4 linked regions of the Homo sapiens genome follow. The protein of the gene in region 1 interacts with the protein of each later gene in a pairwise test. Each region holds a gene or a part of one and is shown in the gene's direction. Other genes may lie near its edges. The genes, in order: PRR20E, SMAP1, TBX3 and ZNF385C.

Evidence for each region.
Region 2: the proteins of PRR20E (region 1) and SMAP1 interact in a two-hybrid assay, tested with the Homo sapiens proteins (one large-scale study listed by BioGRID).
Region 3: the proteins of PRR20E (region 1) and TBX3 interact in a two-hybrid assay, tested with the Homo sapiens proteins (one large-scale study listed by BioGRID).
Region 4: the proteins of PRR20E (region 1) and ZNF385C interact in a two-hybrid assay, tested with the Homo sapiens proteins (one large-scale study listed by BioGRID).

What each region holds. Positions count from the first base shown.
Region 1 is NC_000013.11:57,163,790-57,172,152, forward strand, and holds PRR20E (proline-rich protein 20E), read left to right. Parts: upstream 1-3,407; 5' UTR 3,408-3,621; intron 3,622-3,775; 5' UTR 3,776-3,794; coding exon 3,795-3,846; intron 3,847-4,867; coding exon 4,868-5,481; 3' UTR 5,482-6,429; downstream 6,430-8,363.
Region 2 is NC_000006.12:70,672,171-70,679,828, forward strand, and holds part of SMAP1 (stromal membrane-associated protein 1), read left to right. Parts: intron 1-7,658. UniProt on the Homo sapiens protein: GTPase activating protein that acts on ARF6. Plays a role in clathrin-dependent endocytosis. May play a role in erythropoiesis.
Region 3 is NC_000012.12:114,676,226-114,683,883, reverse strand, and holds part of TBX3 (T-box transcription factor TBX3), read left to right. Parts: 5' UTR 1-683; coding exon 684-1,072; intron 1,073-1,249; exon of another isoform or gene 1,250-1,592; intron 1,593-2,737; coding exon 2,738-3,005; intron 3,006-3,911; coding exon of another isoform or gene 3,912-3,971; intron 3,972-4,232; coding exon 4,233-4,379; intron 4,380-6,227; coding exon 6,228-6,304; intron 6,305-7,413; coding exon 7,414-7,571; intron 7,572-7,658.
Region 4 is NC_000017.11:42,031,007-42,038,664, reverse strand, and holds part of ZNF385C (zinc finger protein 385C), read left to right. Parts: exon of another isoform or gene 1-433; intron 434-779; coding exon 780-928; intron 929-4,329; coding exon 4,330-4,440; intron 4,441-6,880; coding exon 6,881-7,046; intron 7,047-7,658.

The sequences.
Region 1 (8,363 bases):
GAAAAATGGCTCCAGTCTCTGTTCTCCATTCATATCGCATCTTTCCCCATAGTCACACAAGTCTACACCAACAAACGTGTACATTGAGAGCATCGTTTGTGGCTCGCTTTTACAAACACCTGGCGTGCCATGCGCCAGGGGTCCTGCTGAAGTGACTATAAGGTCCAGGCAGGCAACACAGGTGTGGTCAGGACCAGAGCCTCTGTGGAGTCCGTGCGTCTCCAAACTAGGAACAGGCGACTTCGTATTGAAGCATGGCATGGAGCACAATGAGCACTGTGCAGTGGGAGCTGCTTCTTGGCTTGCCATTGGGGTCTGTCATCCATAAGCCAGAAAGCCCCCTTGCAGTCATCCTACGCACATGTGCCACTATCTTCTTGCTGTATATCTGTCTGGAAAGATGCACAGCTTTTACATTATGCAGGTGGTGGTCTGCTGATACGCTACTTCCAGGATATTTCTACCACCAGAATGCTTCACTAAACATTGGTACGTGGAGTAAGACAGGGTCTCATTCCGTCATCCAGGCTGGAGTGCAGTGGTGCAATCACAGCTCAGCGCAGCCTGCGCCTCCTCAGCTCGGGTGATCCTCCAACATCAGGTTGCCAAGTAGCTCAGACTGCAGGCAGGCACCAAGAGCCCTTGGTAATTCCTCCTGGTTTATTTATTCGTTCATTTATTTATTTATTTATTTTGAAACAGACTCTCACTCTTTCACCCAGGCTGGAGCGCGGTGGCTTCGGCTCACTGAGAACTCCATTCCCGGGACTGAAGCGATTCTCATGTCTCGCCCTAATAAAAATAGGAAAATTAGCCAGGCATGGTGGTGGGCCACTGTAGTCCCAGCTGCTCGGGAGGCTGAGGCGGGAGAATCCTTTGAGCCCAGGAGGCGGAGGTTGCAGTGAGCCCAGACTGCGCCATTGCAGTGATCCGAGATCATGCTATTGCACTCCAGCCTGGGTGACAAGAGCAAAACTTTGTCTCAAAATGGAAAAAAGAGAGAGAGAAGTTATCCCAATAAGAAAGATAAAAGTTTTGAAGAGAAACTTCACAGAAGAATCTATGGGTTCGGTCAGTGAGCACACGAAATCCCAATAAGGATGAGAATATGCAAATAAGCATGGAGCATCCTGTGGTGCCAGGGAGAAAGGAGCCGCCCAAAACCAAACAAAGCCAAAAGCCACAGCGATGGGAGGTTGACAAAGGGACACGGAAGCCAACTAAAGGAGCTCCCGGTGGCCAAAGCTGGAAACGTTGAGTAACAAAGTAATTAGCTAAATAATTAATAATTAAATAGTTAAGTAAAATATTTGACAAAATAATTAGTTCAATTATTAAATAATTCATCCCCCGAAGTACTGGAGTGTAAACCAAAGCATACAATAGGTGTCCATAAGTCCATACGGATATAAATAAGTGATTAAATAAACAAACATGTGGGGGAGAATGGGAAAATCCTCCACACAGGAGAACTCCACAGAACTTAGGTAGCTATTCCCCTGCAAGGAGATAAAGCAAAACTTCCCTTTTCTTTACGTATAGGCTACAGGTAGCGACTTCCAGAAAGCACAGTAGAGAAAGAGGTGGGAAAATCACTTTATGGTGGAGAAACCTAATCAACACTGCCCCAGCCCGGTGACCAGGACTAATAGCAGCAGTGATAAGCCGGCTTGATGGTGTGTACTCTAGACAGGATGGGATGGGAATGGCGCTTTCCCGCTGCAATCTTCCTGACAAAAACATATAATTCCAGTCAGATCACAAGGAATACATCACACGAACTTCAGGAGAGGACATCCCACAATATATCTGATCAGTATTCAAAGTGTCAGGGTCATCAAAAACAAGGCAAGTGTGAGAAACCGTCGCAGCCAAGGGGAACCGTGACGAGTTGTAAGGTGGTACCCTGGATGGGGTCTTGGGACAGAAAAGGTATGTGAGGTGAAAGCATAGCAAAACCTCACTTCAACAGGAAATACAACCCAAAAAAATAATTGGCCCGGCATGGTGGCTTGCGCCTGGGGTCCCAGCGACTCGGGAGGTTGAGCGGGACGGACGGCTTGAGCTCAGGCCTTCCAAACAAGCCTGGGCACATAGCGAAACCTCGTCTCTCCAAAAAAATCCGAAAATTATCCCGATGTGGTGGCGCTCACCTGTAGTCCAGCTACTCCGGAGGCCGAGACAGGAGAATCACTTGAACTGATTCTCCTATCTCAGCCCCCCCCCCCCCCCCCCCCCAAGTAGCCGCAGCGAGCCGAGATGGCACCGCTGCACTCCAGCCTGGGCTACAGAGCGAGAACCCGTCTCTGTAAAAGACACAAGGATGCAAACCAACCAAATAACCCACTGTGGGATCCCCTCCAGCGTCCTGCTGTGTTTCCCGCTGTCTTCCTCCACCCGTGAGTGCACCCACAGCAATAAAAGCCAGCGGTGTGGGTCTCACACGCATCTCCAGCCCCGTCGCCATCGCGCTGAGCTCGACTCTTTTTACAAAAGGCCACTTGACATCCTCACTTGGCAGTTCAAAAGCCCCTTCAACCAGATGTGCGCAAGCCAAGCTCCGCAACTTCCCGTTCAGAGCAGGTTCTCGGTCCACCTCTGCCTGAATGAACCGGCGGGCTACCAAGGCCGCAGTCTCTTCCTCAAGGGCTGTCCACACTGGGTCTCGCTTTCTCTTGGAAATTTCTCTCCCACCAGGGAACTTTCTCCTCCTCTACCTCCCTGAGTCTCAGTCTAACAGCACCCTGCGCCCAACCCCGAGGGCTGCAATAGCCTTCTTGCCTCTCCTGACTTATTCTGCGGACCCTGGGTTGGCGCTCCTTCACAGCCAGGCTGGTCGTTTCTGAAATGTTAACCCGCTGCCGGACACCGTTCCACGGTTTTCCGCTGCCTTGGAACAAGACCAGCTCCTGCGCGGACCCTGCCTCCACCTCGCACCACCTCCGGGCCTGGACTTGGCCTCCCGTCCATTCCCAGAATGTGCCGGGCTCCCTTCCAGTCCGGGCCTCAGCACACTCTCTTCACTCCCCTTCCTCCCTCCCTGCCTCTCCCAACCCGGTTCAGGATGACTAATTTCAAACGTTATGTTCCAGATTTCAGCCCAGATATCCCCGCTTTGGATGCTTTCCTTGACCATGCTCAGATCTAAGCTAATCGCATCTTCCTGTCAGCCGCTTTCAGGGCACCACACCTCATTGTGCTGACACTCAGAGGTCATTATGCAATTTTTTTTCCTCGATGATTAGATTAATCAATCAACCACGGACGTCTAGAAATGGCGGCATCTCAGAAGGGCCCCCATTTGACTGGCAGGGGACTGGCCCAATGCGCCTCGCAAGCCCAGCCAGGCCCGCCCCAGCCGGCCCCCCTCTGACGACGCCTGTCCCTTACGCGACTGCCTTGCTGCCATATAAGAGGGACGGCGCTCGGCCTCCAGCAGTCGGCTTTCTGCTGGGCTCGGAGCCAGAACCTGCTGCGTGCTCCCTCCAGACTCCCTGGCTGCGGGTGGACTACCTCAGAGCTACAGCGGTGAACCTGTGGACACCTCCGACTCCTCGGGCCTCTCTTCGTCGAAGAGTCTCCTAATTTTCAGATCTCCGGAGCCAGCTGTGGGAAGATCAGGTGTGTGTCTGGGGGTCCCGGAGGCGTGGACGGATCTCGGGTGGGTGCAGTTGGGGACAGAATCCTCATTCCCCTAGAAAGGCCACGGCCATCCCCCTGCCTTGTCACCTCTGTCTTCCTAAATCCGTTCTTGCTCTCTTGTTTTTCTCCCCAGCCCCTCCCGCCGATTGCTCATGGAGGAACCAAGGCCTTCGAAGCGACTTCGCTCCATGGCCCCTAATCAAGGTACATCAAACGCCTGCCACTCCTCTCTTTTTAATTTCGTCTGTTCCCCAATTCTTCCCCAATGGTTGACACTCAAACTCAATCAAGCATTCTCTGTTTCACCTTCTCCTAGCCTGCCTCAACCTGGGCTGCTTGTTGGAAGTCAGCTCCCGGGTTCCACATCATCTGGGAAATTCCTTTCCCTCTTCCGAACCGTAATCCCATTTCCCAAATCTGAGATTTGCTGTTGTTGTCGCTGTTTCCTTCTGTTTAGTTTTGTATTACTGTTTCTCCGTAGCAGAGCGAGTCCTCACGCTACGTCTTGATCTATGATAAACCGGTACTTCCACCTTGTTCTTTCCCGGAGGAGTTGGAATTTTCCGGCTGTTGCCACGTTGTTCTCCAAAACTTTTCCCTTCATACGCTGAGTGTCCTAAATCTTTTAATCTTGTCTAGTTTGACAGATGCATAACAATAAAGCATCCACTGAAAGGAAATTCTTTAACATCTTGCTTGTCTGAAACATCTTCATTCTCCCCTCCCAGATTCTTCAGCGAAACTTCGGTTGGACAGGAAATTTTAGGTGGGAAATTCATTTCCCTTGAAATTTCGAAGACATTTTCTGTTATGTTCTAGACTGAACTGCTGCTTTTGAGATGTCTGACTTTTGAGACATGTGGAATCCTAGCCCTTTCCATGTGACTTTTCCTTTCTCTGTCTCCCGCTCTCTAGAATCTGTTAGAATCTTCTCTTTTTCCTCAGCACTCTGAAATTTTCTGGTGAAATGTCTCAGCCACAGCATACCTCTAATTCTCTTATATTTCATCCTTCTTTCCATCATTTTAGGTTTTTGCTTTGTTCTGTGGGAGACCTTCTCAACTTCTTTCTCCAACTTCCGTGGAGAGTTTTGTTTCTTCTCTCACAATTTTAACTTCAGAAATCCCTCTTTTCTCTGAGTATTTATTTGTAAAAGTATCCTATAACTGCTTGACGGGTGAAGTTCCTTCTGTCTCTCTCTGCTCACGCTCCGCTTCTCTTTTAGCCTCAGGTGGGCCTCCTCCAGAGCCAGGCTGCTGTGTTGCGGACCCTGAAGGCTCCGTGGAAGCAGATGGGCCCGCACAGCCAGCCCAACCCGCAAAACCCATCGCTTACGTGAAACCCTTCAGACGGCAGCCCCCAGCTCGCCCAGAGTCACCCCCTCCTGCAGAGAGAGGCCGGCGCCGGGGAGGAAGCCGGCGGCCAGGGCGAGGCCGTGGCAGAAGGGCTGGGCCCCGCGGGGACGCTGGCCAGAGACAGGGGGCAGAAGGCTTGATGGCACCGGACGTGCACATCCAACTGGACCACCATGGAGAGCCAGGCCACCAGGGGGAACCGGAAATCACGGAGACCGCAGCCTTCTCCCTTTCTGAAACAGGTCCTCCGCCTGGAACTGTGCAGGAAGGCCCTGGCCCCGACGTGGCGCAACCTGAGCTGGGGTTTCAGGAGCCGCCCGCTGCTCCTGGGCCTCAGGCTGTTGACTGGCAACCCGTCTTGACCCTCTATCCCTGCATCGGGTTTAGGGCTCTGGGTGACTCAGCGGTTTTACAAGTCATTCAAACCCCCCAGGGCACCTACGTGCAAGGGGTCCCAGTGTTCCTCACCGACATTGCGTATTGACCACTATCTGCCACCCACGTTGTTCCCAGCCTCCCTTCCTTCCACCTGGACGTTCCCCCCAGCCCCACTTCTGCTCCACTCCTCCCCCGACTGGACCTGAAGCCTGAGCTTCCCCTGAACTTGGAGTACGCAACTTACAACATGCAAGCTGCCAAACACCCTTTCTGTACAAGGCGATTGGAATGGAACTGTCATGTACAGTGAAAGTACACGTCACGTTTTTCAGCCAAGAAGAAGCCAACCCAGACAACCTGGAAGAAGTGGGATGCAACAAGGATCACTAAGCATGGAAATTAGGAAACTGTATTCTTAAGTCCAGAGAAGTACGATTCTGGAAAAAGGATTGATGACCTAGAATTAAAATTCCAGAAGACACTCATATAGACATGTGGGACATGCGAAAACTCAGAAGGAGCTAGAAGTTACTAAAGTGCTTCTCTAGTGCCTGGAGACGATAGACTGGCTGAATATAAGAGCAATAAAAATCTAGACTGACACATTTTTAAGTCTCAACGTGGGTACCCTTTGGGAACCACTAAATGAATTGGAATAGAAGGTAAAATTTCAAACAGATTGAGGAAAAAGGGGATCAAAGGACATGTGACGAATCAGACAAAAGGTGTTGGGGTGGGGGGGGGGGCGGTTAACGGAAGCAAGGAGAGTGCATGACTCACTGGAACCGCTAAACCAGGAATCAGTAATTTGACGGCAGTGTCCTTGGCTTCCTCCTGGCTTTAATGGGAATATTTTGAATGTTTCACCATTAACCAAGATGTTGGCTGTAGGTGTCTCTTAGATGTTTAAGTTGAGTTAGTTCCCATCTTTTCAGAGTTTGATAAATGTTGTATTATGAACTTTTGTATTTTGTATTTTATTAGGTAGGCTGTTGTTGGCTGGTTTTCACTCCTTTGTAAACGTCCAAATAAAATACAGATAACTTTTTACATCAAAGATTTTTCTCTTGTGTACTCAATCCTTCTAAATAAACCTTTCTCTTCAGACTTATTTTATAGAACAGTTCTTTCACTAAACTTTCACAAATCGCAAATACAAAATGTGTTTACTAAAAGCAGAAAGGAAGGTAGAAAAATGGCTCCAGTCTCTGTTCTCCATTCATATCGCATCTTTCCCCATAGTCACACAAGTCTACACCAACAAACGTGTACATTGAGAGCATCGTTTGTGGCTCGCTTTTACAAACACCTGGCGTGCCATGCGCCAGGGGTCCTGCTGAAGTGACTATAAGGTCCAGGCAGGCAACACAGGTGTGGTCAGGACCAGAGCCTCTGTGGAGTCCGTGCGTCTCCAAACTAGGAACAGGCGACTTCGTATTGAAGCATGGCATGGAGCACAATGAGCACTGTGCAGTGGGAGCTGCTTCTTGGCTTGCCATTGGGGTCTGTCATCCATAAGCCAGAAAGCCCCCTTGCAGTCATCCTACGCACATGTGCCACTATCTTCTTGCTGTATATCTGTCTGGAAAGATGCACAGCTTTTACATTATGCAGGTGGTGGTCTGCTGATACGCTACTTCCAGGATATTTCTACCACCAGAATGCTTCACTAAACATTGGTACGTGGAGTAAGACAGGGTCTCATTCCGTCATCCAGGCTGGAGTGCAGTGGTGCAATCACAGCTCAGCGCAGCCTGCGCCTCCTCAGCTCGGGTGATCCTCCAACATCAGGTTGCCAAGTAGCTCAGACTGCAGGCAGGCACCAAGAGCCCTTGGTAATTCCTCCTGGTTTATTTATTCGTTCATTTATTTATTTATTTATTTTGAAACAGACTCTCACTCTTTCACCCAGGCTGGAGCGCGGTGGCTTCGGCTCACTGAGAACTCCATTCCCGGGACTGAAGCGATTCTCATGTCTCGCCCTAATAAAAATAGGAAAATTAGCCAGGCATGGTGGTGGGCCACTGTAGTCCCAGCTGCTCGGGAGGCTGAGGCGGGAGAATCCTTTGAGCCCAGGAGGCGGAGGTTGCAGTGAGCCCAGACTGCGCCATTGCAGTGATCCGAGATCATGCTATTGCACTCCAGCCTGGGTGACAAGAGCAAAACTTTGTCTCAAAATGGAAAAAAGAGAGAGAGAAGTTATCCCAATAAGAAAGATAAAAGTTTTGAAGAGAAACTTCACAGAAGAATCTATGGGTTCGGTCAGTGAGCACACGAAATCCCAATAAGGATGAGAATATGCAAATAAGCATGGAGCATCCTGTGGTGCCAGGGAGAAAGGAGCCGCCCAAAACCAAACAAAGCCAAAAGCCACAGCGATGGGAGGTTGACAAAGGGACACGGAAGCCAACTAAAGGAGCTCCCGGTGGCCAAAGCTGGAAACGTTGAGTAACAAAGTAATTAGCTAAATAATTAATAATTAAATAGTTAAGTAAAATATTTGACAAAATAATTAGTTCAATTATTAAATAATTCATCCCCCGAAGTACTGGAGTGTAAACCAAAGCATACAATAGGTGTCCATAAGTCCATACGGATATAAATAAGTGATTAAATAAACAAACATGTGGGGGAGAATGGGAAAATCCTCCACACAGGAGAACTCCACAGAACTTAGGTAGCTATTCCCCTGCAAGGAGATAAAGCAAAACTTCCCTTTTCTTTACGTATAGGCTACAGGTAGCGACTTCCAGAAAGCACAGTAGAGAAAGAGGTGGGAAAATCACTTTATGGTGGAGAAACCTAATCAACACTGCCCCAGCCCGGTGACCAGGACTAATAGCAGCAGTGATAAGCCGGCTTGATGGTGTGTACTCTAGACAGGATGGGATGGGAATGGCGCTTTCCCGCTGCAATCTTCCTGACAAAAACATATAATTCCAGTCAGATCACAAGGAATACATCACACGAACTTCAGGAGAGGACATC
Region 2 (7,658 bases), on another chromosome or scaffold:
TTGCAAATAAATGATTCTAAAACGATGTGCTAAGTGCTTGTAATAATGGTTTTAAGAAATAACTACCTCTATACTTATTTTGGGCTGTTGTTCCCCTTGCACCTTGACTTTTGCCCATTGGTGGTCTTTACAGTTCCTAGAATGCTGTTTCAAGACCTTTGCACGTGCTGTTCTTCTGCCTGGGAAGCTTTCTAACAAGTTTTTGCCTGCTCAGCTTTTGCTCATCTTTCAATTCCTGCTTAAATGTCTTTTCAAGGGAAATAATTCTCCTTGATCCTCTGAGATTAGGTTAGGCTTCCGTTTATACATAAAAGACAACACCCTGAATCTTTTATTGCACTTATCACAATTGTAATTAAACATTATTTAGGTAATTATGGGGTACACTGTATCCCTGCTGGATTATAGCTGTAAGAGAGGAGACCTTGTTTATCTTGGTTAGGGTAGTATCCCCAGTTTTCAGGACATGTGGTAGGCAAATGTAACTTAGCAAATATTTTTTGAATGAATGAATGTGTGAATGAATGAGCACAGAGCCCCTGGCAGGCAGCAGGGTGTGTGAAAGGGAGTGCACCTGTGAAAGGGAGTGGCATGTGGAGTGACCCTGTTGGGACCAGTCACAGAAGGAGTCTTCATTTGAGCTAGGTTCTGAAGGTGGAGTGGGATTTCATCAGATAGAGAAGGAATTAAAGGACACAGCTGCACACACACATGTACCAGTATGAAAGAACAGAAGAAGTTTCCATACGGCCCTTACTAGATAAGCTTTCTTTAAGCATGATCAGTTTTGGTAGTCTCAGGTCAGAGGAAGAACTGGGATAGTGAGGATTGCAGGCAAATCCTGAGTTAGGAGATGTTGAACAGTGGTCCAAGAAGAGGGCAAGAGGACCTAAATTCACACAATGTCAATATATAAGTCAGGGTATAGAGCAGGAAAGAGATCCACTGTAGCTATTTTCAGGAATCAGGTACTTACCAAGTCATTGGAAGGGCTGGAGGAGGGAAAGTCAGGGAGCCACTGCTGAACTGCTTTCAAGGCCACACATACCACCACTGCTACCGCTGCCCCACTGTCATAACTGCTTCTCACCCAGGAGACTGGTATGCTGATGGGGGCATAAGGCCTATGGAGCTGCAACCACTTAGTGTCTGTAGACGTTTTTTGTTAGTTGCCCTTTCTGTAGGAATGTGGCCTCTGTCCCACTTGTGCTTTCCATGTGCAGATAATTGGCAGATCCTAATTATGTCCAATACCTTGCCTTCAAGGGAGTCTTTTAGCTTTCTAACTTTTTCAAAAAGTAGAAACGTGTAGAGCCCATTTGATTGCAAGAGCCAATCCAAGAGTTCATGTTTTTCATTAAGTCTTTGATATTTTAGAGTTGTTACTTTTAAAGTGTAGTAATATTTACTAAAAAGTAAAGTTCACCTTGGGGAACTGGTGTTTATTATGATGTTGATGCTTATAGGACAAATTTATATAAGTGAAAGTCTGATTATAATTCACCTAAAGAAATTTGCCAATCTAAAAGTTTCCTCAAAATGTGAAACTTCAGTCTGATGGGTCTGTTGTTCTTGTAATTCTGCTGATCTCGAGGTTTTTCCTGATTGGGCAGAGCCCTGGTATCAGAGCTGAGATGGAAATCATTGGTCTCTGACTCATCAGTTTAAAACTTGGGCTGCATGTTGTCTCCCCTCCTTTTGTTCTTCACAGTTCTTCTTTGTCTTTTTTGTTTGTTTGTTTGTTTGTTTAAGATAAAACTTTCAGTACTTGACTTCATTAATTAAGGAGGCTTACATCTCCTAAATTGTTGCTGTACAAGATATATATATATATCTTTCTCCACCTTTATTAACCTATAACAGACTTGAATCCATGCTCTCTTTAAGGCAAAGTAGAATGTTTAAAACGATATACTTTATAAACTCAAAAAAGTGCTTTGGCATTTTTTTTTTCTTTTTTTTTCTTTTTGGTACAGGGTCTCACTCTGTCGCTGGGCTGGAGTGCGATGTAGGCTCTCTGCAACCTCTCCCTCCTTGGTTCAAGCAATCCTCCCACCTCAGCCTCTCAAGTAGCTGGGGCTACAGATGTGTGCGACCATGCCTACCTAATTTTTGTATTTTTTGTAGAGACCACGTTTCGTCATGTTGCCCAGGCTAGTCTTGAACTCCTGGGTTCGAGTGATCTGCCTCCCTCAGTCTCCCAAAGTGCTGTGATTACAGGTGTGAGCCACCACACCCAGCCCCTTTTGCTTATTTCAAACGCTTCTACTAATCGTCTTTTCACGGATTAGAATTAAGCCATTTTAGTTCAGTTTCTCAATTTTCTCAATGAAAGAAGATCAAAGAAACTTGGAGGCCATTTTGTAGTTATTATCAGAAGAGTTGACCGCCTTACATTCTTACCACTGTAAAGAGTTGATTTAACAGACATTTAATTTTGTTGATAAATCAATATTTTCTGGGCACTAAAAAGATTAAGTACTACGTTAGATACTACTGTGTGTGTTAAAAAAGTTTTGGATGCCGGGTGCAGTGGTTCATGCCTGTAATTTCAGCACTTTGGGAGGCTGAGGCAGGTGGATCATCTGAGGCCAGGAGTTTGAGGCCACCCCTGGCCAACATGGCAAAACCCTGTCTCCACTAAAAATACTAAAATTAGCCAGGTGCAGTGGCACATGCCTGTAGTCCCAGCTACTCGGGAGACTGAGGCAGGAGAATTGCTTGAACCCTGGAGGCGGAGGTTGCAGTGAGCCGAGATGGCGCCACTGCACTCCATCCAGCCTGGGCGACAGAGTGGGACTCCATCTCAAAAAAACAAAAACAAAAAGTTTTGGATATAGTTGTCTACAAGCTAGTTAGAGATCTCAGTAGACATGAAACAATTACCAGTTAACTTCTAATCTATGTTTACATTGGTAGATTCATTAGAAGTTTAGAGATAGGGTAGCTCCATTGTGACCTGGAGAATGTTAAAAAAAAAAAAAAAGCAAATAATAACATTACATATATACTCACAAATTATATAGTGTTTTTTTTTTTTTTTTTTTTTTTTTTACCAGAGATGATGTACTTCACACTTTACATATACTAACTCATATAATCTTCAAAACAACCTTTGAGGTAGGTAATATTATTACCCAGGTACACAGAACTTAAAGTAGTGGAGCCAGAAATTTTTTCATTAAAAAAATTTTAGGAGGCCTGGAGCAGTGGTGTACACCTGTAATCCCAGCATGTTGGGAGGCCGAGGTGGGTGGATCACCTGAGGTCAGGCGTTTGAGACCAGCCTGCCCAACATAGTGAAACCCCATCTCTATTAAAAATACAAAAATTAGTTGGGTGTGGTGGTGCACTCCTGTAATCCCAGCTACTGGGGAGGCTGAGACAGGAGAATCACTTGAAACCGGAATGCGGAGCTTACAGTGAGCCAAGATCGTGCCATTGCACTATAGCCTGGGCAACAGAGCGAGACTCCATCTCAAAAAAAAAAAAAAAAGAAAAAAACAACTTGGAGGGGAGTGACTGGCACTTTCTTAGGACCTGGGGATTAGCAGGGGATAGGTAGATAAGGTTCATGCTCAAAAGGATCTGTTAGTCATTGGTGTGGAGAAAAGAGTTAACAAAGCAGGCCTTGCGGTGGTTGGCTGACATCTGAGGGGAATCTTGGGGATGGTCCCACCACCCTAAGTGATGAGTCTGTCATTGTGCCTAAGTTGTTTGTATAATAAATATGGTTTATGTTGAATATCTGCTTTTCTTCTGGGATTCTGGAATTGGCATATGTGCCAGCCAGGGTTACCTACATGACCAGTCTCCCTAATAACCTTTGGCACTGAGTCTCTGATGAGCATCCCTGGTTGGCATCATTTTACATGTGTGGTCACAGCTCACTGCTGGGAGAATTAAGTGTGTTCATTGCAACTCAACTGGAAGGGAGCACCCGGACGCTTGCTCCTAATTTCCCCTGGACTTTTTGTGCCTTTCTCCTTTGCTGATTGTGCTTAGTATCTTTTTGCTATAATAAATCATAACGATGAGTACAACTGTATATTGAATCTTTTGAATCTTCTTAGCAAATTACTGAACATGAGGGTGGTCTTGGGGAACTCAAAGCATAATTGGTAATATATATTTTCTTCCAGTATATTATACAGGACATGTTGGAGCCTCAGTATATCTGTGCTGGCTCTATAACCTAGCCTGCTAATAAGGGTACAGTCTGGAGGAGCAAGGATGAACATTAGAGGCTTTTATAACCTGGGGAAATTGTGATTTTATTGAGATGAGATAGGGGTGGGAATCTGAACTGTAGAGTCAGGATTTGAGCCCGGGAGATATAGTCTGTGCTGTTAACTATGTTTGATGGTATGATAGATAAAACACCTGTTTTTGTTGTAGAAATTTGTGATGTAAGAGATTGTTGTTGGGAAGACTGTCACCTTCGGCTAACTTAAGGTTTTTCTCAGATTATTGCCAAATGTGTTCAAATGTGGACAATATCTTCATTTTAGTTTCCCTCCTTGCATTTAATAGCAGAACCACCATAACTTCAAAATACCAGTTTAAACAAATTGGAATTTTTGTCTCATCACTAAAGTTTATTTTATTTATTTATTTTTTCCTTGTTATAGAGACAGGGTCTCATGCTGTTGCCCAGGCTGGGGTGCAGTGGCGTGATCATAGCCCATTGCGGCCTCTAACTTCTGGGCTCAAGTGATCCACCTGCCACAGCCTCCCAAGTAGCTGGGACTACAGGCTTGTCACCATGTATGGCTAATTTAAAAAAAATTTTTTTGTTGGGTGTGGTGGGGAGGGGCCTTGCTATGTTGTTTGGGCTTTCAAACTCATGGCCTCAAGCAATCCTCTTGCCTAGGCCTCCTGAAGTGCTAGGATTAGAGGTGTGAGCCACCTCACCTTGCGTAAACTTTATTTTAGAAACTTACTGAGTCCACAGATAAGTGCTTTAGTGTTTTTCTTTGTTTTTTGTTTTGTCTTCATATATATATATAATTTTTTTTTTTTTTTTTGCTATATCCTTAGGTCAGATACTGGTCATCTACCTGGGCTTTTTAAACCATAGAAACAGCATGATAGAATTGAAAGAACACTAGCTTGGTTGAGCAAAGCTAGGATTCAGTCCAAGCTTTGCCTCTGACTTGCTTAGTGACCAGTTGTCCTTGTTCTCTTTAATCCTTATTGCAAAGATTTATTTCAACCTTGTATGGTCTGTGTTCTTTCTTGAATCCCATACCTTGTCACTTCTTTTTTTTTTTTTTTTTTTTTTTTTTTTGAGGTGGAGTGCCAGTGGCTCGATCTCGGCTCATTGCAAACTCTGCCTGCCGGGTTGATGCCATTCTTCTGCCTCAGCCTCCCGAGGAGCTGGTACTACAGGCGCCCGCCACCGCGCCCAGCTAATTTTTTGTATTTTTAGTAGAGACGGGGTTTCGCCGCATACCTTGTGACTTCTATGTCAGTGTTTACTATTATTATTAAAAAATTATATTATTGAGAGTTTATTTTTTGAGTCCTATTGAGATATGGATTGTCATCAAACTTTTATAGTTTTTATTTAAAGCTTTTCACTGATGATTTAGGTCTTGCTGAGCAAATTTACCTAGTATTATCTTTAATTATCCCAAGCTATATCACACAACTCATACAACTCTTCCCCACAGGTTGAGGAGTCCTTTTGTTTAAAATTGTTTCACTGTAATGCTTTCTTACTATTAATGTCAGTATTTCTACCTCAGATGTTAGGTAGAACTGTGTTTAACTTGGAGTGGCATTTAGTTACTCAGATGTTAGGTAGAACTGTGTTTAACTTGGAGTGGCATTTAGTTACAGTATCATATAGAAGTGATTTTTAAAATTATTTCACTTAAAACAGAGCTTAGATAAAGTGCTCTTGGAAACATGCTAATTTGATGTTTACATATATTTTGAGTGATAAATGTGAGGACCTTGAGGGTCCGAAGGAAAGAGAATTAAAAGTAATTCTAATAATCTTCCATTCTCTGTGGCCCCTATACCCCAGCAATTTTTGGTCTCCATTTGACTAGAGATCCAAGTGATTGATGGTAGACCTTCAGATGTCTCTTATTGATCTTTTATAAAGCGTGCCTTTCATTGAGCAGTGATGAGCTCAAGCCTAAACTTAAGAAAATAAGGGGAATTCTGTGGGAAATAATATTTGGGATAGCTTTATCTTCCATTATAGGAAAAATTCATAAAAATTATGTTTAGCCTAGGGCGTTATTTAGTTCATGCATTTCTACTCTTGGAAGTTGCTTTTGGTGTAGGGTGATGATGGTGCACAGTGACAAAAAAATTAACAGAAGAATGTTTAAGTGAAATGATCATCACCAGTATATTAATTTCCTGTTGCTGCTATTAAAAAATCCTACAAACTGAATGGCTTAAAACAATACCAATTTATCATTTTAGCAGGTTTGCAGGTCAGAGTCCAAAAAGAGTCTTATTGAGCTAAAGGCAAGGTGTTAGCAGGCTTGCATTCCTTTTGGAGGTTCTAGGGGAGAATCTGTTTTCTTTTCCAGCTTGGAGAGGCCACCTGCATTCCTTGGCTCATGGCTCCTTCCTCCATCTTTGAAACTAGCAGTGTGTCATCCTTGATTCTGCTCCTCCTTGCCCTCCACTTCCATCATTACATCTTCTCTGGCATGTTTATGACCTTTTGGCTTTATCTGGGTAATACAGGACAATACTGCCATCTCAGTGTCCTTAAGTTATTCACAGAGATTCCAAGGATAGAACAGGACTTCTTTGGGGGCCATTATTCTGCCTAACAAAGTGGATTTGTGATAAAAATTATATATGGAATCTAGATTTTTTGTTTTTTTTTTTTTGTTTTTTTGAGATGGAGTCTTACTCTGTCGCCCAAGCTGGAGTGCATTGGCATGATCTCGGCTCACTGCATCCTCTGCCTCCCCGGTTCAAGCGATTCTCCTGTCTCAGCCTCTGGAGTAGCTTACAGGTGTGTGCCACCACACCCGCCTAATTTTTGTATTTTTGGTAGAGACGGAGTTTTGCTATGTTGGCCAGGCTGGTCTCAAACCCCTGACCTCGAGTGATTCGCCTGCCTTGGCCTCCCAAAGTGCTGGGATTACAGGCTTGAGCCACCGCGCCTGGCCAGAATCTAGATTTTTATAAGTGGTACAGAGTTGGGTGTATTTAAGATGGTATGGGATGATGAAGTACTACTTAAATTAGCCTTTCTCACAGGACCTATTTAAAAATACATGCATGCAAGAGTCATTTAACAATCTCTTTGCAATGGGATCATTTATGTAGGAAATCCCAAGAAATTTATAGAAAAGCTATTAGAATGAATAATTGAGTTTATTAAGTTTACAGAAATAAAGTGACTATAGAAAAAGTAACTCTATATACTAGCAACAAATAATTGGAAGTTGAAATAAAAATTATGATTTATAATAGCATAACAATATGAAAACTGTGGGATAAATTTAACAAAATACGTGCAAGACCTGTATACCAAAAACTACAGAAGATAGCTGAGAGAAATTAATGAATACTGTACCTAAAGAAGTGGAGAGAGGTATCAGAGATATCATGCTCATGGATTAGAAGACTCAATATTTTTAAGATGTCAGTTCTCTCCAAATTAGTCTCTAAATTCA
Region 3 (7,658 bases), on another chromosome or scaffold:
AAGGAGGAGGAGGGCGGCGAACGGAAGCCAGTTTGCAATTCAAGTTTTGATAGCGCTGGTAGAAGGGGGTTTAAATCAGATTTTTTTTTTTTTAAAGGAGAGAGACTTTTTCCGCTCTCTCGCTCCCTGTTAAAGCCGGGTCTAGCACAGCTGCAGACGCCACCAGCGAGAAAGAGGGAGAGGAAGACAGATAGGGGGCGGGGGAAGAAGAAAAAGAAAGGTAAAAAGTCTTCTAGGAGAACCTTTCACATTTGCAACAAAAGACCTAGGGGCTGGAGAGAGATTCCTGGGACGCAGGGCTGGAGTGTCTATTTCGAGCTCAGCGGCAGGGCTCGGGCGCGAGTCGAGACCCTGCTCGCTCCTCTCGCTTCTGAAACCGACGTTCAGGAGCGGCTTTTTAAAAACGCAAGGCACAAGGACGGTCACCCGCGCGACTATGTTTGCTGATTTTTCGCCTTGCCCTCTTTAAAAGCGGCCTCCCATTCTCCAAAAGACACTTCCCCTCCTCCCTTTGAAGTGCATTAGTTGTGATTTCTGCCTCCTTTTCTTTTTTCTTTCTTTTTTGTTTTGCTTTTTCCCCCCTTTTGAATTATGTGCTGCTGTTAAACAACAACAAAAAAACAACAAAACACAGCAGCTGCGGACTTGTCCCCGGCTGGAGCCCAGCGCCCCGCCTGGAGTGGATGAGCCTCTCCATGAGAGATCCGGTCATTCCTGGGACAAGCATGGCCTACCATCCGTTCCTACCTCACCGGGCGCCGGACTTCGCCATGAGCGCGGTGCTGGGTCACCAGCCGCCGTTCTTCCCCGCGCTGACGCTGCCTCCCAACGGCGCGGCGGCGCTCTCGCTGCCGGGCGCCCTGGCCAAGCCGATCATGGATCAATTGGTGGGGGCGGCCGAGACCGGCATCCCGTTCTCCTCCCTGGGGCCCCAGGCGCATCTGAGGCCTTTGAAGACCATGGAGCCCGAAGAAGAGGTGGAGGACGACCCCAAGGTGCACCTGGAGGCTAAAGAACTTTGGGATCAGTTTCACAAGCGGGGCACCGAGATGGTCATTACCAAGTCGGGAAGGTAAGCAGTGGGGGCCTCCTCCCCTAAGCTGTTGGAGAGTTTTTTCCTCCCTTTATTTCTCTGCTCCCAGAACAGTCGGTTGGTCGGTTATTACGGCTTGGACGAAAAGTTAGTTCCCCTAGAAATGTATGCACAGACTTCCAGGCCCTGCCCCGGTGGCAGGAAATTTCAGCTTACCTGGGCATCTGCATGGGTCTTGCATTTGGTCTGCATCCTGGGTTCCCTCCCGAACAGACAGAATTTTTCAGTGGAGCACAGACATCCCTGCAGGGAGCAGGAAAGAAAAAAAAAAAAGGCACTCTACTGCAAGAAACTCACTCTTCAAACCCTCCTGGAACATCCTTATTTCTTTGTTGATGTTGTGTTGTCTGTTTTATTTTGTTCTCAGAGAGAAAAACTTAAAGCCCTTTCCTTTTGTGTGGGTATTGGGAGGCCTGACACCATTCCCCGGCCCTTTCTGCCCTCCAGTCTAGCCTCTGGGTCTAAAGGGGCCTGCTGCTGCCCTGGTCAGAGAGAAATCGAAGGGCATTTTGGTTTGTTTGCCCACACTACTTCACGTGTCTGTAACCCAAGGGCGAGTTCAGCAGGCAATTTTGCATAATTTAAGATTATGTTTGCAGACTTAAGGAGCCAGTGAGGAGACACACACCTTTTTTTTAATGTGTGAATATTATCAACCATATTTTACATAATGTTTAAAGGTCCTTGCCTGACCAAAACCTGCCTGGAAGAGAAGATCCTGTAATAGTCATTTAAAATCACTGATTTTTTTTTTGTAATAGCATTGAAGCCTGTAAAGGCATAAAGTTGATACAAAAATAAAATCCCCTTCATGATATCTTAAGCGTTCTGTCTCCTTCCAAGCTAAATGAGGCCAAAGTTTGGCATAAAATCCTCCTCAAACTCACAAGACATTTAGTCAGTTTTCCAGCAAAGTGCTTCCTTGCTTCCTTTTAAGTCAAGACTACAGAATGCCAACCCTTCTGTGAAATTAACAGCAATGTGGTGGCACAGTCTTGCGGTTTTGGACTGGCCTAAGAAGTGGGGGAATGTGTTAGCAGCTCCACGGGCAGATCGGTTATCAGGCCCAGGAGTGCACCGAAGTCTGCAAAATTCGTTCTGGGAACTCACTGAAGTCCAGTTTCACTTCGCCCACAGCGGGATTGCTATTCTGCAGCAGGGAGGGGTGCAACTTGACGTTCATTTCCTTGATAAGTTTAACATTTTCTCATCAATGGGTGGTGGAAAATTCTAGTCTTAACTGACCGCGCTTTACAAAAATCTTACCCCAACCTGTTTAGATCTAGATACCCACAGAAAAAGACATGGGCAAGAATTTGCTCTCAGGAGGGCAATCTGTAAAGTCAAGCAAGGACAAAAAAAATATTGAAGAAATTGTTAGACAATGTAGAGAATTGCAGTGCCACAATGCATTTGTTTTGAACCTTGGGACGTCTAAATATGGCGAAACTGAGAATATTTAATACGTTAGTTGTGGAAGAAAACGATTTTGCAACCAGTTGCCTCACTCTGAAACATGTAAGCTTATCAGTCACAATATAAAGTCTTAGACTTGGTTTCAATATTATGTGATACATAGGAAATCAAACCCAAGATTACGGGTGGTTTATCTTTCTTTTTCTTTTCTATTCTTTCGTTTTATAGGCGAATGTTTCCTCCATTTAAAGTGAGATGTTCTGGGCTGGATAAAAAAGCCAAATACATTTTATTGATGGACATTATAGCTGCTGATGACTGTCGTTATAAATTTCACAATTCTCGGTGGATGGTGGCTGGTAAGGCCGACCCCGAAATGCCAAAGAGGATGTACATTCACCCGGACAGCCCCGCTACTGGGGAACAGTGGATGTCCAAAGTCGTCACTTTCCACAAACTGAAACTCACCAACAACATTTCAGACAAACATGGATTTGTAAGTTTCATTGCTCTCTTCAGTAAAATTTTCTCCTCCTTCACTCAGTCAAAGGCAGTGCTTCCCATTTCATGAGTTTCAGCCCAGACTTCTCCTTTGCTTCTCCCTAAGCATAGCAAACTTGTCCTCGTCTGGAAAAAGGATTCGGGGTGTTTCTCTCCAAATAATGGAAGGCCTGGCGTTCTAAAAGAAATGGGGCAAGAAAACTTACCGGCTTGTGTTCTATAGCAATTCCAGCTCTTTGGTAGATTCCTGACCTGAGAGTGAAGTTAAAAACCATTTTTTAAGAGCTAAAATCAATTTCAAGGCTATGTATTCCTAAAGGATTTGTTTTGTTTTAAAATATCATACTTCTGTTTTGAAACCAGTGATATTATTTTCTCAGGAGAGTTTACGTTTCGGAGCCTTGACTCTGTTGGTTAAATGGTGTGAATACATTTTTAAAAACTCGTTCTTTTACTAAAAAAAGAATTGGGCTTAGGTGGGAGTCCGGCTTACCCTAAATGAGGCTTAGATCTTCAGAAAAAAATGGTTTGTGTGTTGGGAGTGTATATATGGATTCAGTGACAGTGCTTAGAAACTTAGAAAACTTTCATTGCTTGTAGATATCAGGCAAAGGACCTTTTGCGCCTTTTCCTACCCCTCCCCAACATTTCAATAAAATAAACAGCGTGATAAGCAAGGAGTAAGCAGAAAGATTAGGCCCAGGAAGACGCGAATGGCGCGGAAATATCTTCAGCGGGCAGGAATTGCATTTGAAGCCCTTGATTTGATTAAGGCATAAATATTCCTCTCTAGAGTTCAGCCTTTCAGGGCTTTAAGTGGATTGGGCTCGTCAATTAGTGGGCGCTTAAAGTACTGAATCATTTTGTAAATTAAAATGCATGTTTTTCTCTATCTTTTAAGACTTTGGCCTTCCCAAGTGATCACGCTACGTGGCAGGGGAATTATAGTTTTGGTACTCAGGTAGGCTAGGGTTCAAGGTATGAATGATCCTTAGATGGTGAGGGTGGGGGGGGCCCTTTGGCAACTGAGGAGCAATTTGGATTCTCCAGAAGATAACATCTGTGGAGCGAAACGTACCCAGGGGGTACTCCAAGGAGGTGGGCTCGGTACAAGCGTGGTACCCTGCGGTGGGGAAGATTTCAGCCTGGCAGGGGTCCTAAGATCCCGTTTGTTCTGCTAAATCCTTGTTTTATGTATGTCTCCTCTTCCCTGCCCCTGCAGACTATATTGAACTCCATGCACAAATACCAGCCCCGGTTCCACATTGTAAGAGCCAATGACATCTTGAAACTCCCTTATAGTACATTTCGGACATACTTGTTCCCCGAAACTGAATTCATCGCTGTGACTGCATACCAGAATGATAAGGTAAACTCAAGGGGCTTTCCTTTTTAATGGTGATATTTTGCCTTCCCCTTAAAAGCTGCTTTAAGTCAGGATGAGAAAGTTACAAGAGAGTGGAGACGAGAGTCTTGAGTTGTCTTTTGTGATTTGTGGAGCATTTGGGGGGAAAGGACAATGACACCTCGAGGAGACAGAAAAACACCTTGACTAGGTAGGAACAATGCTGAGCAAAAAAACGCCATACTAATTTTGCCACAGAGAAACTCCTAGAACTGCTGTCATTGATGCCACCCACTCCTCCCCCCCTCTTGGGCTTTGTCCTGTCTGTTTTAAGGTTCATCTTCTTCCCCTTGGGGAAGAAGGATCAAGAAGTCACATTCAAAAGGAACCAGCTAAAAATTTAAGGCAAAAGCCATTTGGGATCCTGGGAGGAGAATCCTAGTAGAGACCAGCTTTTCTCCCCTAGCCAGAAATCCTGAGTAGCTGGTCTGGTTTTTATTACCTTTTATGCTGCTGTGTTATGATGTGTGTGTGTGTGTGCATGTGTGTGCATGCATGCGTGTGGTTGGAAAAACCTACCCTGATCACAGGGTCATATTAATCGAGTTGTCTGAGGCTTTTGAGTTGGGGTGGCCAAAGTCACCACTTCATTTGAATTCCCCCCCTCCCCCAGGCCTGAATCTGGAGGTTAGAAGGATCCCCAAAAGGGAAAGCACCTGATATCTAGAGCTATGGTGGCCTGAAGGTCATGGGCACAGAAAAAGTGACCCTTACTGCTGATTCACCAGTTCCCAGATTGGCTGTTAGCAGTTATGGGGTGGGAGGAGGGACTGAAGACCCCTGCTCTGCAATCCTGGACTTCAAAGAGAGTCCATTTTACCTGACAACACACTTCATTTTGAACTCACTGTCATTGTCACTGTCCTTGGGTCCTCTGTGGACTTCATGATGGGGATGTTCCAGCTAAATTTCTTTAGTGTGAATACCAAAACATGATCTTCTCTCCCTGTGAAACCTGAAGTCTTCAATAGAGCAATTTATTCCAAGAACATGAATCCAACCAAGGGTCCCCCTTTCCACCTCTGAGTAACTCTGTGTATATAACTTCTTCTTCCCACCAAGGGGAAGGGATTTGAAAGATTACACACTATAGCATTTTTCTCAAAGTGCAAAATGCATGTGCCCTCTAGACCCAGAATCCTGTGAAATGAAGTTGTTAATGTAATAATAAAATGTAGCATTTTTGATCAGACAAAAAGGCCATGGGCCTTCTCCACCTAATGGCCATGGCAGAGCATATAAATGAAAACAGATGTTTCCAGTGGTCATTCAGTACTGTAACTGTCAATATTGTAATTTCCTCAAACCACCCCCCAGGCAAAGAAAAAAAAAATTAAACTCACTCCCGCACTCACTCCCGCACAAGGGTAGTGAAACCCCATAAATCATTTATTGGATTCATGGAAAAGGAGTGTGTGTGTGTGTGTGTGTGTGTGTGTGTGTGTGTGAAGGGAGTATGCTATAATTTATGATTAATTGCACTGTATAAAAATCAAAATGAAAGCATAATTTTAAGATCTACAGGTTTTCCCTCTTGATGACTTTGACAACACTTCCATGTCTAAACCCAAACTGTTGGCTGCCCAAAGAAAAGAATTTCTTTGAATAATTTCATCCCCAAATCCCTGGTTTGGCCTCATATAGGAGATACAAGCCCTGCCACAGTTTCCTTATTATCTCCTTTCCCTGGCATATCTATATGACTTCTGTTGGCAGTCACATCTCTAGACTTGTTGAGTTGGGAAAAACACCCTCAAAACATTCTAGAAAATGAGAACAATGTCTCTGTCTTGCTTGTGTCTCTTCCAATAGATAACCCAGTTAAAAATAGACAACAACCCTTTTGCAAAAGGTTTCCGGGACACTGGAAATGGCCGAAGAGAAAAAAGGTGAGTTGAAACAATTATTTATTAGATAGTTTAGAAAAATCCCTTTTTTTAGGATCCAACTCTGAAGTGTTAGAAGTGAGATGCAGGCACTTATCCTAAGAGCGGGTGGAAATCATTCACTTTCCCCACTGCTACATGCTTGCCGCTATCAGTATACCCAGGACAAGTACTTTTCCTACCTCCTTACCTTTAAGGAAATTAACTAGGCTACACCATACTTATCTCTGGAAGAGAAGCATCAGGGATAATAGATTATACAGGGATGCCTATTAATTCCTAATTAATTTAAGTTCATCCTAGGCAGGTCCCAGAAAGAACCATGCCATTGAGAAAATACTTGGGAATTTTTGCAATCCTGTCTTCCAAATACCATCAGACAGAGCTGGGGACTTCGGAAAGATGTATGGCTCTCTCCCTCCTTCGTGGGGACATGTATCATTTTGCATTACGTAGACAGCTGGAGAGTATATGAAAGAGGGTCTCCCCTCCCCCACCCCCTTTCAAAGAATTTCTAAAATCCAGAAAATCACCCCCAAATTTTTAACCTATCCCCTTGGGGCGGGCATTAAAAAATAATTGCTAACAGCTAAATATATTTTTATTCCAATTAATTTGTTAGTAAAACGATTACAGTAAAGTGCAGCATGAAATAACCACTTCCTCCCAATCTTAGCCACCATCCAAAATTTGGGTATGCTGGGGACAGACAGCGTTGTGTTTGCAGGATTGGACACCCGGTTCTCCCTATATAAGGCTGGCAGTCCAGCTGTCTCTGACTAGATCCAGCCTCTTCTCCTGCTTTTAAATAAAATTTCACAGCCCAAGCAAATGCCTTTTCCTAATGAAACCCCATCTTGAATAAATGCAACTGAAGCCTCCTTCCTTTCTCCCTAACCCTCTGCCACACTCTTCAGCCCAGTTAGAGGGTCAAGGACAAAGCTTGGGTCTATGTGGCTGCCCTGGGGCAAGCAGATTTCAGTGAATTAGCGTTGTCCCTGGGCAGCAGGCAGGGTGTGAGGTATGTGTGTGCCGCTTTGGAAAGGGTAAGGGAAACAAAGAGGGGAAATGTATGTTACATTCTGTAACCTGGGTGTGGGCTTCTGCCACAGAAAACAGCTCACCCTGCAGTCCATGAGGGTGTTTGATGAAAGACACAAAAAGGAGAATGGGACCTCTGATGAGTCCTCCAGTGAACAAGCAGCTTTCAACTGCTTCGCCCAGGCTTCTTCTCCAGCCGCCTCCACTGTAGGGACATCGAACCTCAAAGGTAAACCATGTCACCTTTGTGATCACTGGACTCCAGTCCCTCGTGGCCTGGAAGAGTTGAAGGGGGATGGGGCACCAACCAGGGCAC
Region 4 (7,658 bases), on another chromosome or scaffold:
TTTGCAATGACAGGGTCGAAAAAAGCCCCAGATGGGCTGGATTTTTTTTTTTTTCTGATATTTTCTTCCTCAAAGTCCAGTTGCTCTCCAAGTTCCTACCCCTCCCCTGCCCTTGCCTCAGACCTTTAAGACCAAAGACTGCAAAACCACAGTGCTGTACCTGCCACCTCCAAGGACTGGCGTCGAGGCCCAACCCAGGAATGTTGGCTTATTTACCTCCTGGGGGAAGCAGTTTAGGCCTCATCAGAGCTGGGGAGCACATCCCTTCAGAGCCCATGGGTTTCCCATTCCCTCCTGTCAGCCCTGGCCATGAAATCCTGGGGATCTGGAGGGAGGGAGGATAGTTAGAGAGTGAGAGGGGCGAGGGCTAGCCTTTTCCTAATACCCCTGGGTTTGAGTTTAATTTGCAATAAAATGGAATCCCAGCACATCATGCAGTCTCCATGGTGGTGTGTGTGTCAGGGCCTGCCCAGACCCCTCTGTCCCTCTCTTGGCTGGGCTGCCCTGGGGTTCAGTATGCTGCCTCAGTAGGGGCAGGAGGGTCATCCCTCTGGGCTGGGAGCCTCAACTGTGGACTCCCTGCCTCTGCTTCCCCAGCTGTGGGGAGGAAGGGCACAGAGAAGGGGGCTATAATCACTATGGGTCTGGCTGGTGCCACTCTGTGAAGAGAGACACAGGTTTCTGCCCAGCTCCACACCCAAGAAGCCCACCCGCCTCTTGTTCTGGCCACGGGGGTAGGACAGAGCCCATTTCAGACCCTGCCCTTCTTCCTCCTGCAGCAGGCCCGGCCTCCGGCGCCCCCAGCCCCCTGCTGGCCTCCCTGCCCCTGCCCACCCGGCCTCTGCAGCCCCCGCTGGACTTCAAGCACTTGCTCGCCTTCCACTTCAATGGCGCTGCCCCGCTCAGTCTCTTCCCCAACTTCAGCACGGTATGGGCTGGGCTGGCGGGTGGGGGCATGCACACAAGCTTGTGGGTGGGCACAGAAGGTGGGTTCAGAGGGTCCAGCTCTCAGCAGCTGGGTCTAACCAGGAGCTTTTTCTCCAACATCCCCCAGAGGGGATAGGTGCTCCCCAAATAGGGACCCCTATTTGGGATCCTAAGAGAGGGACCCGCTCTCTCTTAGGCTGGGGAACAAGATGGTGTCAGCCCTTTCCCCACCCCCACCATCATAGCTGCTGGGCCTGCAAGGGCCTGTAGTCTGTGCATTCCACTTAAGCTTCTGTGTAGGCGCTCCTGTGGATGACGTGTGTGTGTGTGTGTGTGTGTGTGTGTGTGTGTGTGTGTGTAACCTGTGCCTTTTTGTTGTAGTTTCTATAGGTTTTGTATGTTATATGTGGATGTGAGTTTGTGTGTTGGTGTCCAACGTGTGTTTGTAAACAACTCTTTGTGCATGGGTAATTTTATGTAATTAAGGTATGTGCCTGCACAATCTGAGGGTTTATTGTGTCCTTGTGTCTTTTGTGTGTTTGGCGTGTATCTGCCCTCTGAGCATGCGTGTTTTTGTGTGGCTTGGGTGATTGTGAGTTTACCTGTGGTCATGTGCCCTTTGTGTGCATGAGTGTGAATTGTTCTGCTTGTCTGAGCATTTGTAACTGCCTGAAGCTTCTGTGCTGTGTGTGTGTCCTAGTCTGTACATTTCCTTGTACACGTGTGCATAACAAGTATATGAATTTTAATTCACTATATGAGGGATCAGCAACCATCTCTGTTTTTTTAAATTTTGAAAACTCAAGTGAAATCATGGGTGTGGCATGCCCCATCCTGAGCAGATGGTGGCAAACTCCACCTCAGTCACACTTAGGAATCCCTTCCCTCCCACCCTCCAGAGTTAGACAGAGGTCCTAAGGAGTCTGAGGCATTTGGGGGGTGGTCCTCTGGTCTTGAGTCCTTGCTGTCGCTTGCTGACAGGCTCACTGTTGAATGGCATGGTTCCAATTGCAGGGGGCCCCTGCAGGCCATTCTCCTCTGAGGTCCTGTCCCCTGAGCCCCTTGCTGGCCCTGGGTGCTGTGAAAATTTGAACCACTTTCTGTTCTCAGGGAAGTTTCTGCACCCATGTTCTTCTCTCTAAGCTCTGTTTTCTTTTCTTGGGAAGGTTTGGAAAGTTCCTTTTTTATTTTATTTTATTTTTATATAAGCAGAGATGAGGTCTCACTATATTACCCAGGCTGGTCTCAAACTCTGGAGCTCAAGGGATCCTCCCACCTCGGCCTCCCAAAGTGCTGGGATTACAGGTGTGAGCCACCACGCCCAGCCTGGAAAGTTCTTGACAAGTTCAGACAGCTGCATTTGGCCCAACTTCCTGAGAAAAGGGAACATAAAGCCTTAATTCTATAGAAGAAAAAAATGATTTAAAATAAGGAAAAGAAGCTAGGTGCAGTGGCTCATGCCTGTCATCCCAGCACTTTGGGAGGCTGAGGTGGGCTGATCATCTGAGGTCAGGAGTTTGAGACTAGCCTGGCCAACAGAGATGGTGAAACCCCATCTCTACTAAAAATACAAAAATTAGCCGAGCATGGTAGTGGGCACCTGTAGTCCCAGCTACTTGGGAGGCTGAGGCAGGAGAATCGCTTGAGCCCAGGAAGCGGAGGTTGCAAGATTTTGGCTCCGCCATTGCACTCCAGCCTGGGCGACAAGAGGGAGACTCCATCTCAAAAAAATAATAAGGAAAAGAAAAAAAATCCAAATTAATATTCCAAAGAAACGATCCTACTCCTTGGGGAACCTTAGGCCTCCACTTGCTGCTCCCTGCCCCCTACTGGCCCCCCACCTCCCCTGGCTGTGGCTCTCACTCTCTCAAGAGAGGTCGTCATGGCTGGGCACGGTGGCTCACACCTGTAATTCCAGCACATTGGGAGGCCAAGGCAGGCGGATCATTTTGAGGGCAGGAGTTCGAGACCAGCCTGGCCAACATGGTGAAACCCTGTCTCTACTAAAAATAACAAAAATTAGCCAGACGTAGTGGTGGGCGCCTGTAATCCCAGCTACTCGGGAGGCTGAGGCAGCAGAATCACTTGAACCTGAGAGGTGGAAGTTGCAGTGAGCTGAGATCATGCCACTGCACTCCAGCCTGGGCGACAGAGCAGTATTCCATCTTATAAAAAAAAAAAAAAAAAAAAAAAAAGGTCGTCAGCAGCCTCAGGCCCTGTGACAGTGATAGAGCTGATGAGATAGGACTTATCTTCCCCCAGCCCACAGGTCCCTGCATGAAGCCTGGGTGATGGGAGAGGAAATTCCAACAGACGAGTTCTTTGTCTCTTCCCTGCCTCTCCTTGTTTCCAACTCTCTGTCCCAATAGTTGTAATTATTGCAAAGGAGAAAAACAAAAAACAAAAATAATGACCTAAGGGGCACCAAGAGATGCCAAGGTGATCACCAGGACATGGTTCTATGTCCCAGAAACATGCAGGGCACTCTGGCCATTCCCCTGCTTCCAAGCAGAAGCCTAGGCTGACAAATAAAGACAGCCGGGAGAGGCTGTGTATTTTTCTTTTCTTTTCTTTTCCTTTCTTTTCTTTTCTCTTCTCTTTTTTTTTTTTTTTTTTTTTGAGACAGAGTCTCACTCTGTTGCCCAGGCTGGAGTGCAGTGGCGCAATCTCAGCTCACTGCAACCTCTGCCTCTGAGGTTCAAGCCTCCTGCCTCAGCCTCCTGAGTAGCTGAGACTACAGGCACGTGCCACCACACCTGGCTAATTTTTGTATTTTTAGTAGAGAAGGAGTTTCTCTTGGCCAGGCTGGTCTTGAACTCCTGACCTCAGGTGATTCACCCATCTTGGCCTCCCAAAGTGATGGGATTACAGGCGTGAGCCACTGCACCCAGGCAGCTGTTTCTTCTTCTTTCTTTCCTTTTCTTTTTCTTTTTCTTTTCTTTTTTTTTTTTTTGAGACGAAGTTTCGCTCTTGTTGCCCAGGCTGGAGTGTAATGGCCTGCTCTCGGTTCACCGCAACCTCCATCTCCCTGGTTCAAGCAATTCTCCTGCCTCAGCCTCCCGAGTAGCTGAGATTACAGGCATGCGCCATCACACCTGGCTAATTTTGTATTTTTTTTTTAGTAGAGATGGGGTTTCTCCATGTTGGTCAGGCTGGTCTTGAACTCCCAACCTGAGGTGATCTGCCTGCCTCGGCCTCCCAAAGTGCTGGGATTACAGGTGTGAGCCACCGCGCCTGGCCCAGCTGTTTCTCTTTCCAACATCCACAGGATGGAAAAGTTCTTCCTAGAAGCTGACCAAGGCCCTCTTCAGTCATCTTTAGTTTTGGGCATTTTGTGCTGCCCCCGACCCCTGCTTCCCAAGCCAACCCCAGAGTTATTATGCCCTCCCACTCCCTTCACAGATGGACCCGGTCCAGAAAGCTGTCATCAGCCACACGTTTGGTGTCCCCTCCCCTCTGAAGAAGAAGCTGTTCATTTCCTGTAACATCTGTCACCTGAGGTTCAACTCAGCGGTGAGACAAAGTAGTGAAAGCAGGTCTGGGGAGGGGGCTGGGCAGGGAGAGGGCTGGAGGCTGGGCTTTCAGAGTCCTTCTGGGAGGAATATCAGTGGCAAAGGGGCTGTGGTCGGTATTTTCCACCCTGGCTGCAGAAGAGGCACTCTTGGTCCTTTAACCATCGCATCCTCTCCTCTCTCTAGATTCTTCTGCCCCTTCCCCTTCTGCCCAGCTGTAGCCCAGTGGGATTCCATTTCCTTCCCCCCAGGCCTCTCTCCTGTGTTCTGGATCCTTCTGCAAGAGAGAAGACTGCCCTTCCTCCACTCCAGGTCCCAGTGGCCCATCTCATCAGCTCCTGGTCTGGAGCTGAGCTCTTAAGGCACCTGAGAGTTTACAGAATGTGATCATGCCCATCCCCTTAAATAATAGTTTTCATGATACATCTGTGAGACGGGTGGAGGCGGGATTTTTTTGTTTTGTTTTGTTTTTTTAGACAAGGTCTCACTCTGTCACCCAGGCGGGAGTGCAGTGGCGCAATCTTGGCTCACTGCAGCCTCCACCTCCAGGGTTCAAGTGATTCTTGTGCCTCAGCTTCCCTAGTAGCTGGGATTACAGGCATGTGCTACCACGCCTGGCTAATTTTTTTATATTTTTGGCAGATACAGGGTTTCACCATGTTGCCCAAGCTGGTCTCGAACTCCTGGGCTCAAGTGATCCACCCACCTCAACCTCCCAACATGCTGGGATTACAGGTGTGAGCCACCGCGCCTGGCCTAGAGGCGCTATTATAATCCCCGATTTTCAGATGAGGAAAGTGAGCCTTAGAGAGGTTAAGTGACTTGCCTAAGACCACACAGCTGGTAAGTAGCAAAGCTGGGATATGAATCCAGGCCTGGCTGACCCCAAGGTCTATGACTTTCTACTACAGCCTACCCCTTTCTACTACATCTTACCACTAGGTAGAGGAGGAACCTCATTCTGGCCTCCCAGGGAAGGTCTACCTCCTGTTAGGCAATCTGGGGTTTCGGTTGGATGCCAGCAGAACTGCTGTGGTATAGCATCCAGGGAGGGGCCATGGGGGCCTGTCTTTCCCATGTTTCAAGGAGGTGGGCCGGGGAGCAGCAAGTGAGGACCCTTGGAGGGAGGACACTGACAGACCAGATTTGAGGATTCCCTTCAGGCCTTCTGGTTCCATGAGTCCTGCAAGAGATGGAGGAGAGGCTGGGCGTGGTGGCTCATGCCTGTAATCCCAGCACTTTGGGAGGCCAAGGTGGGTGGATCACTTGAGGTCAGGAGTTAGAGACCAGCCTGGCCAACATGGTGAAACCCCATCTCTACTAAAATACAGAAGAAAAAAAAAAAAGCAGCCAGTTGTGGTGACAGGTGCCTGTAATCCCAGCTACTCGGGAGGCTGAGGCAGGAGAATCGCTTGAACCCAGGAGGCAGAGGTTACAGTGAGCCTAGATTGCTCCCGTTGCACTCCAGCCTGGGTGACAAAGCGAGATTCCGTCTCAAAAAAAAAAAAAGATGGAGGAGAGAATTCGTTCTGAGGGAGGAACCATTCTTCTTCCTGCCGGACCCCGGGCACAGTGCCTGGCAAATAGCAAATGCTCAGTAATGACTTGTTGAACAAATGAACAAAGGGATGAATGTTCTGGGGTACATACACCCCAAAGTGTGGGGATTGCTCTGCTTTCTCCATTTGTGCATTGATACACTTGATAACTAACATTCATTGAGCACCTACTCTATGTACTCGGCCCTTGTAATTCATGTTCCCATGTAATTCTGACAACCCCATGAGGTCAGTATTATCATCACAGGGTTTATGGGTGAGGAGACTCAGGCTCAGAGAGATGTTACTTGCCTAAAGATGTAGTTAGTGGCCAGGCGTGGTGGCTCACGCCTGTAATCCCAGCACTTTGGGAGGCTGAGGCGGGTGGATCACGAGGCAGGAGATCGAGACCATCCTGGCTAATATGGTGAAACCCCGTCTCTACTAAAAATACAAAAAATTAGCCGGGTGTGGTGGCGGGCGCCTGTAGTCCCAGCTACCCCGGAGGCTGAGGCAGAAGAATCGCTTGAACCCGGGAGGCGGAGGTTGCAGTGAGCTGAGATGGCGCCACTGCACTCCAGCCTGGGCGACAGAGCGAGACTCCATCTCAAAAAACAAAAAACAAAAACAACAACAACAACAACAAAAAGATGTGGTTAGTAAGTGGCTGGGTCAGATCTGAAGCCAGAGGCAGCCTGCCTTGGAGTTCATGTGCGAGAACACATTCTGCAAACCTCAGAGCCACATGTGCTATGGTGATGATGATGACAAGGACAAGGACTTGCCCTTTGTGTGACCTGAGCCCTGCCTCCCTTTGACCTGTCCCCCTGCTGGGCTCCAGTTCACAGATGGGGCATGTGGACTCAGCCAGTGAATGGTGACCTCTTGCCCTCCCCTCCCCAGAACCAGGCCGAGGCACATTATAAAGGCCACAAACACGCCAGAAAACTCAAGGCTGTCGAGGCTGCCAAGAGCAAGCAGAGGCCACACACCCAGGCCCAGGATGGGGCTGTAGTGTCCCCAATCCCAACGCTGGCCAGTGGAGCCCCTGGAGAGCCACAGAGTAAAGGTCAGTCCTGAGCTCTTCTCTTTCCCACGTCTCCACTCCAAATCTGGTTTCCGACAAGGGGTTGAGAGATTTCTGCTTATTCTTTTTGCTTGTGTTGGAGTATTCCATACAGACAGGCAAAGGCACACAAGTGTACCACGCCATGAATTTTCCTAAGCTGAACACACCCAGATCAGGAAACACGTTACCAGCACCTCAGAAGCTTGTCTTGCACCTCCTCCTGGTCATTACCTTGAAGTATTCATTTCCAAGGGCTGCCTTCACAAATGACTTCATTTGTGAAGTTAGGAATGGTGGCTCACATGTTGTGATGGTTAACACTTTGGGAGGCTGAGGCGGGAGGATTGCTTTAAGCCTGGAGTTTGAGACCAGTCTGGGAAACATGGTGTGACCCTGTCTCTACAAAAAATTTATTTGCCAGGCATGATGATGCACACCTGTAGTCCCAGCTACTCAGGAGGCTGAAGCAGGAGGATCTGCTTAAGCCCAGGAGGTCGAGGCTGCAGTGAGCTATGGGTGACAGAGCAAAACCTTGTCTCTAACCTCCCCTGCCCACCCCCACCCCCAAAAAAAGAGACTACAACCTGGGTGACTGAAAACAACAAAAATTTA